Homo sapiens: one gene and its partner. The protein of the gene in region 1 purifies or fractionates together with the protein of each later gene. This does not show direct contact. Each region holds a gene or a part of one and is shown on either strand. Other genes may lie near its edges. The genes, in order: GBP2 and RNPEP.

The links.
Region 2: the proteins of GBP2 (region 1) and RNPEP fractionate together in Homo sapiens (co-fractionation; one large-scale study listed by BioGRID). This does not show direct contact.

What each region holds. Positions count from the first base shown.
Region 1 is NC_000001.11:89,105,579-89,109,384, forward strand, and holds the end of GBP2 (guanylate-binding protein 2), read right to left. Parts: intron 2,714-3,806; coding exon 2,597-2,713; 3' UTR 554-2,596; downstream 1-553.
Region 2 is NC_000001.11:201,988,963-201,992,785, reverse strand, and holds part of RNPEP (aminopeptidase B), read right to left. Parts: coding exon 3,742-3,823; intron 3,404-3,741; coding exon 3,255-3,403; intron 1-3,254. UniProt on the Homo sapiens protein: Exopeptidase which selectively removes arginine and/or lysine residues from the N-terminus of several peptide substrates including Arg(0)-Leu-enkephalin, Arg(0)-Met-enkephalin and Arg(-1)-Lys(0)-somatostatin-14.

The DNA of each region.
Region 1 (3,806 bases):
CGGTGTATGGCTAAACTGGTGCGCATGAGTTTTTCTCATGGGTATAATCACTGGGGTGTTCTGGACTTGGGTCATATTGAAGGAAATCCTGCACAAGATGTCAACATGTCAAGAGGCATTGATCTCAACACCAAGAATATATTGAATGAGTGGATCTCTAGAAGAGAGAATTTGAGGAAAGGAATCAGAAGTGGACTACAATAGGGACGTGCTATTGGGAGGTCCTGGCAAGGGGGATCAGCAAAGAACCCAAATCATCCTTAAGGACTTAAGCCACCACCAGAAGGTGCCAACACCAGATCAGTTATGTATCATGTAAGGTTTCTTTTCCTTAATTCCCTGCACTCTAGTGTTAACAACTTGAAGGTATCATCAACATGAGCTAGTGTACCCAGTGGGAGGGAGAGCTGGAAATGAAAATAAAAAGTCGTACACCTTTCTCACTGTGTGCCTGTAAGGCTGAATCAGGCCTGGGCTGTGTGACTGAGTGGAATCTGAGGGGGAGCAAGATACAAGGGGAGGAACTTTAAATCAAAACTCAGACATTTAAAAATTTAGGTCAAATGTTATTTTTTTTTTTAGAAAAAGAGACTATTCATTTATCTGAGAGTGACTAATGAACAAACAGGAAAGAAATGTTCCGATTAAGTAAAAGGGGAATTGTAAGAAAGAATAAAGTTGCTTTTTGCTTTCACAGAACTAGATACAAAATACTAACTGTTTGAAAGGTAAGAGCAATAACTAAACTGAGGCATAAACAAGATAGATCTTAAATACAAATGAACTAATATGTTAAATTGTGTTCCCAGGGTTGGGGAATAGGGAGTACCTATTCTATAGTCCTATTAAGTCTTTCTTAAGTATCATTGTTAAAAACTAAGAATAACTTAAAGAATATTAACAAAGTGCATGACATGAAACAACAGTGGAAAGATTAAAACAACATTGAAAAATAATGACAAAAAAGATGAGAAGAGTGTTGTATCTGATGTACACAAAAATACTAACTCAAGTCTTAGGTTATTCCTACTATAAGATTTATCTCCATACATCTGCATGGAAAAACTGGTTGACTAAACATACAGGAAAATTTCCCACGTTATTAGTTTCTTCCTCCAAAAGTAGAAGACAAAAATACTCTAATTCTCAGACTTTCCCATGGGTAGGCATATGATTTAGATTCTTCCCTGCAGATTGACTTTTGTGAGGCTTAGCTGGAGATGTGAGCAGCTCAAAGATGCAACTTTTCATGGGGTAGGGGAGTATTTGTTTACTGAAAATGTGAAGGTGGTGGCATCCATTTACTCATAGCTGACACTGCAGAAGCTTCCAGCATTTCATCCAGAGATCATGGTGCTGGTTCATGGTAGCTGTGTTGTTTTCCCGTGAGATGCCTTTACAATGGTAGTATTATCCTCGGTGGAATAGCTGTAGAGTATGGCTCCCTCACAATTCTGGAGCATCGGTGTGCAACCTAATGGTATTAAAAAGTAAATTACTTTTTACTTAAATTGCTGAGCAGATTGTTATTTGCCATGAAGAACTCTGAATAATACACATCCTGAAACAATTGTAGTAGGATAATGTTTTGTATTAATGAATTATTCTTGATTTTTCAATCTGTCATTTTTTTTTTTTTAGTAAGTCATTTACCCTGAGTAGCTTTGAGGATATAATGTCATAGCAGAGGAGCAGAGAGAAAAATGCAGTCAAGTTTTAGGCTTTATAGGATTATAGTCCTGGTCCTCAGAAGAATGGAAAGTAATTTGAGTTTGAGTTAAAGCTTTCCTTTCTGTGATTGTAGAAGTTATTTTCTAAACTTCAGGAAAGAGAAAAGACTAAGGGAGACTAGAGAAGAGAGATCTAGGTGGCCTGGGAATGGGGCAGTAATTACCTAGAGGGTTTACATGGACAGAGAAGGTGGAGCCTCTACTCATAAATGCATTCTGCACAGAGGCAACCACTTTCTCTGCTAGTGCCCACAGATCATGCAGCCTCCACCCAAATGAGAACTGTGCACTGTCTGTACTTTAAAAGCCTAGTTAAGTGTCCCAGATCTCCTTTATTTGCAGCCAGCATGCCATACAAAGACCACTTGGCAGGAGTGATGCTCTACTGTGCCCCATGGTTTGTTTGGTCTCATCACATTTTCATCATATTCACAACACTTCAGCCCTATGCTACGACCATAGTTAAATCCCTGAATAAGAGTATAGGACTGAATATACAGTAAGGGTGGTGCATATGAGAGAAAAAAATCTACCCAGAACAGAAACTGCAAGATATCTCATTGGAAAATGCATCCTAGTTACACAATATCTCTCTTGAGTCCTTGTGTATGATTTCAAATATAGGATTTAGTTAAAGATCATATTAAAAGTTAGTACTATAAATAAGCATGAGTTGAATTGCTCTGTAGGTAAAACATTGACCTCATACTTAACCTTTACTTTGCAAACTTTATGGTTCAACAAAAATGCATGCATCATGATTTTGAGTTAAGTTTAATGGCAGTTGTTTGACACTCTGAAGTTGCTCATTCATGTTGTTTCTTGGGGAGAGGGAGCTGGACAGGCAAATTTTGCTCCTTGGACTTTTAGAGTATGTTACATATTGGCTCCAATGATTTGCTTCTCATCTGGATATCCCATATGTCTTTTTGAAGTCTCTTGCTCTCATTCTCGAATCCCTCCTTGAGAAGGCGTTCCTGTTCCTAAAAGGGAAAGTGGAGACTAAGCCTATCCAGCTTAACACATTTCCACCAGATTAGTTCCCCTTTTGGTACTTATATTGATCCTTCAAGAATTTTTGACTATCACTCTCTTCTGAGTCTCCTATACCTGCCAATAATTTTTCTATGATTTTTTTAGCTTCAAAAATGTTGTTGTTCTACAGTTTCTAAAATATTAGTGACCCAGCGTTTTATTCCTTGGTCCCTTCACCATTTGCACTCATGCAACACAGTCTTTCTGGAAAAACCATAACTTTCTCTTGTTCTTTTTGTTGTTGTTGTTCATTTCTGATCTATATAGAATGGACTCTTAAATATATATCTAGGAAGGTATGAAAGATAGATGATTTCCAATTGGTAGGTTACTATATAACTCAAGACTAGGGCAAGTGTTTGATCAGGGAATTTAGTACAGGTCTCCAAAATTCGGAGGTAACAGAAATAAATTGAGGAGATCAGGGCTTACAGTGGCCCATAGGCTATTTCTGGGCAAACGTAAATGTGGAAAAGAGCCCAGAGAACAAGAAAGTATTGGCACCATGGGCACTTAACCAGTGTGCTTAAGTGGGTAGATGGTTAGGGAATCTTTCTTTTTTTTTTTTTGAGATGGAATTTGACTCTTGTTGCCCAGGCTGGAGTGCAATGGCGCCATCTTGGCTCACTGCAACCCCCGCCTCCCAGGTTCAAGCGATTCTCCTGCCTCAGCCTCCTGCATAGCTGGGATTACAGGCATGCGTCACTATGCCCAGCTAATTTTGTATTTTTGATAGAGACGGGGTTTCTCCATGTTGGTCAGGCTGGTCTTGAACTCCCGACCTGAGGTGATCCGCCCCCGTCGGCCTCCCAAAGTGCTAGGATTACAGGTGTGAGCCACTGCACCTGGCCTGGTTAGGGAATCTTTCTACTCATAACAGTGCTTCCAGACATAAAGTCTTAGCAGGCATAACAGAAACAAAATCCCCATGGATCCCTCTCAGTAGGAAAGACTGGCTAGATATTTCTCTAGGTAGTCTGATGCAGAAAAGTTACTTACTGCTCATGAGATTATAATTACTTCATTTAGCAAATGAGAAAC
Region 2 (3,823 bases), about 110 Mb from region 1:
CACTATTTTCTACATCTCCCAAATACCCACTTATAGAAGTAGAGAAAAGGAATTGTATAACAAGGGACTGGGACATTATAGCAGCGGGAAGTGGGCAAGGGGCTTTGGGGTGTTGGTAAGAGGTAACCAACCACACACTTGGGCCAGGGAGGGAAGCCCAGTCAGGAGGGTCTTGACTGCCCAGGAGAAATGAGTGGCTTGCCGGAAGGGAGGCTGCCATGAGCTCAAGGAGGAGACATGGTGGAATATAGTGGGAGAGAGGCCGTCAGAGAGCTGGAAGGTTAGCAGAGTCAGGATGAATGAGGACAAGGGGCTCAAGGGCCTTAAAAGTTCAGATATGGTACAGTTCATGACAATGACGATGTCTAGGCTCTAGACTCCAGAGCATGGGTGTGAATATGGGTGGCTGACAGAGTGGAGAAGGCTCCCTGAGTAGAGGTCAAGAAACCCTGAAGGTTGGTGTTGTGGCTCATGCCTGCAATCCCAACACTTTGGGAGGCCGAGGTGGGAGGATCTCTTGAGCCCAGGAGTTCAAGATCAGCCTGGACAACATAGCAAGACCTTGCTCCTGCAGAAAATAAATAAAATTAACTGGGCATGGTGACAGAGTAGCTGTGGTCCCAGCTACTCTGGAGACTGAAGTGGGAGGACTGCTTGAGCCTGGTAGCTTGAGGTTCAATGGGCTGTTATTGTGCCACTGCATTCCAGCCTGGGCAAGAGAGCGAGGCAAGAAAAGAAAGAAAGAGGGAGGGAGGGAGGGAGGGAGAAAGGCACAAGAAACCCTGCAGCCACCCTCAACCCTGGGTGTTAGGAGAGAAAAGTCGCCAAAGATGATGTGACAGGAAACCAGACAGAAAAAGATCATGGGACGGCAGTCAGTATCTTCAAGGAATTACTTTGTGAATTGTTCTACCACCACCTTGGATGTCAAAATTACCACAGTCCTTCAGCCCAGTGGACTTCAGCTTGTTACAACTAGAAGGTTTAAGACAGTCATCCAAGATACCTCCACCAGGACACACATTTCTGTCAAAATAAATCAGGATGCTCTCAGTCAAGCTGCAATCTCACTACCTGTAGTATATTGCAAAGAGCACTGGATTTGCAATGGAAATACCTGAATTTTAATTCCAGTTTTGCCAACTAGTGGTCCTGCACAAGCCACTCACCACAGCCTTGGTTTGCTTATTTTTAAAATGTAGAAAGTATCATCCTCATGGAGTCTGTGTAAGGATTAGAAGAGATTATACATAAAAGGGCCTACTGGGATATACCCATAATTCCCCTCTGCCCAGGATTTTCCTCTTGCAGTAACAGGGACTGGGATAGGTGGCATACCTTGCCAGAAGACCCTCCGATTTAATAAACCCCCACGGCCCGGCGTGGTGGCTCATGCCTGTAATCGAGCACTTTGGGAGGCCGAGGTGGATGGATCACGAGGTCAGGAGTTCAAGACTAGCCTGGCCAACATAGTGAAACCCTGTCTCTATTAAAAATATGAAAATTAGCCAGAAATGGTGGCACACACCTGTAGTCCCAGCTACTTGGGAGGCTGAGGCAGGAGAATCACTTGAACCCAGGAGGCGGAGGTTGTGGTGAGCCAAGATCGCGCCACTGCACTCCAGCCTGGGCAACAGAGCAAGACGCCATCTCAAAAATAATAAATAAATAACCCCCCACAAGACCCTACGATGTGACCCAGGAGGCAAGAACTGTCCATTTAATCACGGAAGGAATAAGGCATTACCACCAGTTAAGTGGATTCTGTCACCTAGTTCGATATACCATGTTGTCATTTTATTACAGGCAGTATAAAAAGAAATCATTATCACTCAGTATCTTTAGAATCTATTGTTCTCTCATTTCCCATTAATAGTTCATACTCTTACAAGTAGAACCTTAGTAAGGGTATTCTTGGAAACGACGTTCCTTTACTTATCTACTTGCTTGTCTATTGCAAAGATGACATCCTTTTGGTTATTTCCCGCCCTGCCTATTAGGAAGACAGCCCTTCGTAAGAGGAGGGCACTTTGTCTTTCCAGACTGGTATTGTTTTGAATGTGTGCGCTGGGAGCAGATGCCAATGGAATCCCATTTATTATTCCAACTGATAACCAGAAACTAAGACTCATGATACCAGCAGTGCCACTGAGCCCAGTTATGAAGTCTGAGGCTCGTAACTAATGTTGTCAAGGACACCACTGCCTCTAGGAACTGGGAGCAGGGCCAGAGATAAAGAACAGCAACAGTGCCAGGAAAAGGTCACGGCTTCACCGTCCAGCCTGTGATGCTCCCACATTGGGACTAAGCTATGGTGGAGGTAATATGAGAGCCAGGAAAAACCTATACTCCTGGTCAAACCTCTTTTATCAGGAAACCTTACAAAATCCCTTTTTATCTTCACAAGATCCATGTAACTTCACGGAGGCATTGCTCTCACCGTAGGCTTAGACTCATGCATCTGCTGCAGATAGGAAGGAGAGTCCACTTCCCTCTTCGAGGGAAATGATACCAAAGTTGTTATTTCCAGGAACTACGTGCAAAAGAAAATGGGGAAGATTTGGTACAAAGATAGGAAAGTGGATATAGCTGCTAGAAGGGCATTTAGAACTTAAAGATATTAATAAAGATCCATTTCCCAGGCCGGGCATGATGGCTCATGCCTGTAATCCCAGCACTTTGGGAGGCCAAGGCGGGTGAATCACCTGAGGTCAGGAGTTCAAGAGCAGCCTGGCCAACATGGTGAAACCCCGTCTCTACGAAAAATACAAAAATTAGCCGAGCGTGGTGGGGCATGCCTGCAGTCCCAGTTACTTGGGAGGCTGGGGCAGGAGAATCGCTTGAACCCAGGAGGCAGAGGTTGCAGTGAGCCAAGATCGCACCATTGCACTCCAGTCCAGCCTGGGCAACACAGCAAGACTCCATCTCAAAAAAAAAAAAAAATCCATTTCCCAAAACTGCAGCCTAAATTCCAACATCCCTCTGTAAGGCAGCCCAGGACAGCGCTACTGCTAGCAGGGATGATGATCTCATTCCAGGCAGCAGGATTAGAACTGGAGAGAGGGAGTGAGAAAGGCAGGGAGAAAAAGAGCACTTCCTCCAGCTGTGCTCATGCTGCATGAGCTGCAGAAAGGCTCTGGACTCAGACAGAGGATCCAAGACTGCCCAAGAACCCCCCCAGCAGGTCCACTGGTCAGAGTCCTCCTCACCTCTGAGGCCAATCCAACCTTGCCTGTGGGGTCTTTGTCTCCTACCTGGGTCCAACTTCAGCCGAAACCAGATCTCCGATGGCCAAAGCTATCAGATAGGAGGGGATGGGCTGACACATCTGGAAGAAGAACTTATTTGGACCTCTCTTCTCCCAGGTGCTAGCACTCATCACAGCTGTGAAGCCATCTGGGACCTGACAACAGAGAAAGCTTAGGAGATTTTACCTGGAGAGAGTTTCCTTTTGATTAGTTTGAATAAGAGCATGACCGGCCACCTGTGTGTGATGATAATGGCCTGGAGTCTATCTTGGAGAACACAAAGGTTTCAAGAAACTAAATCTGTGCTCAACTGATGGGATTTAGAGGAAGGCTACATACAACTTCAGTAGGTGGAAGAATTTAAAAGTAAGCAATTTTTCAGAAGTACCACTGAATGGATATAATAATTTACCACTGAAACGTGACCTGATTGATAGATCTGAAATCATTTCTTCATCCCAAGGGCAGGTGCACCTAACCTTAGTCTCCTTACCTCAATAAGAGCTGAATACTTGTATTTAACAGCAGGCGTGTCGAAGCAAGGGAAGAAGGCCCGGTTTAGGACAGCCTGGCCC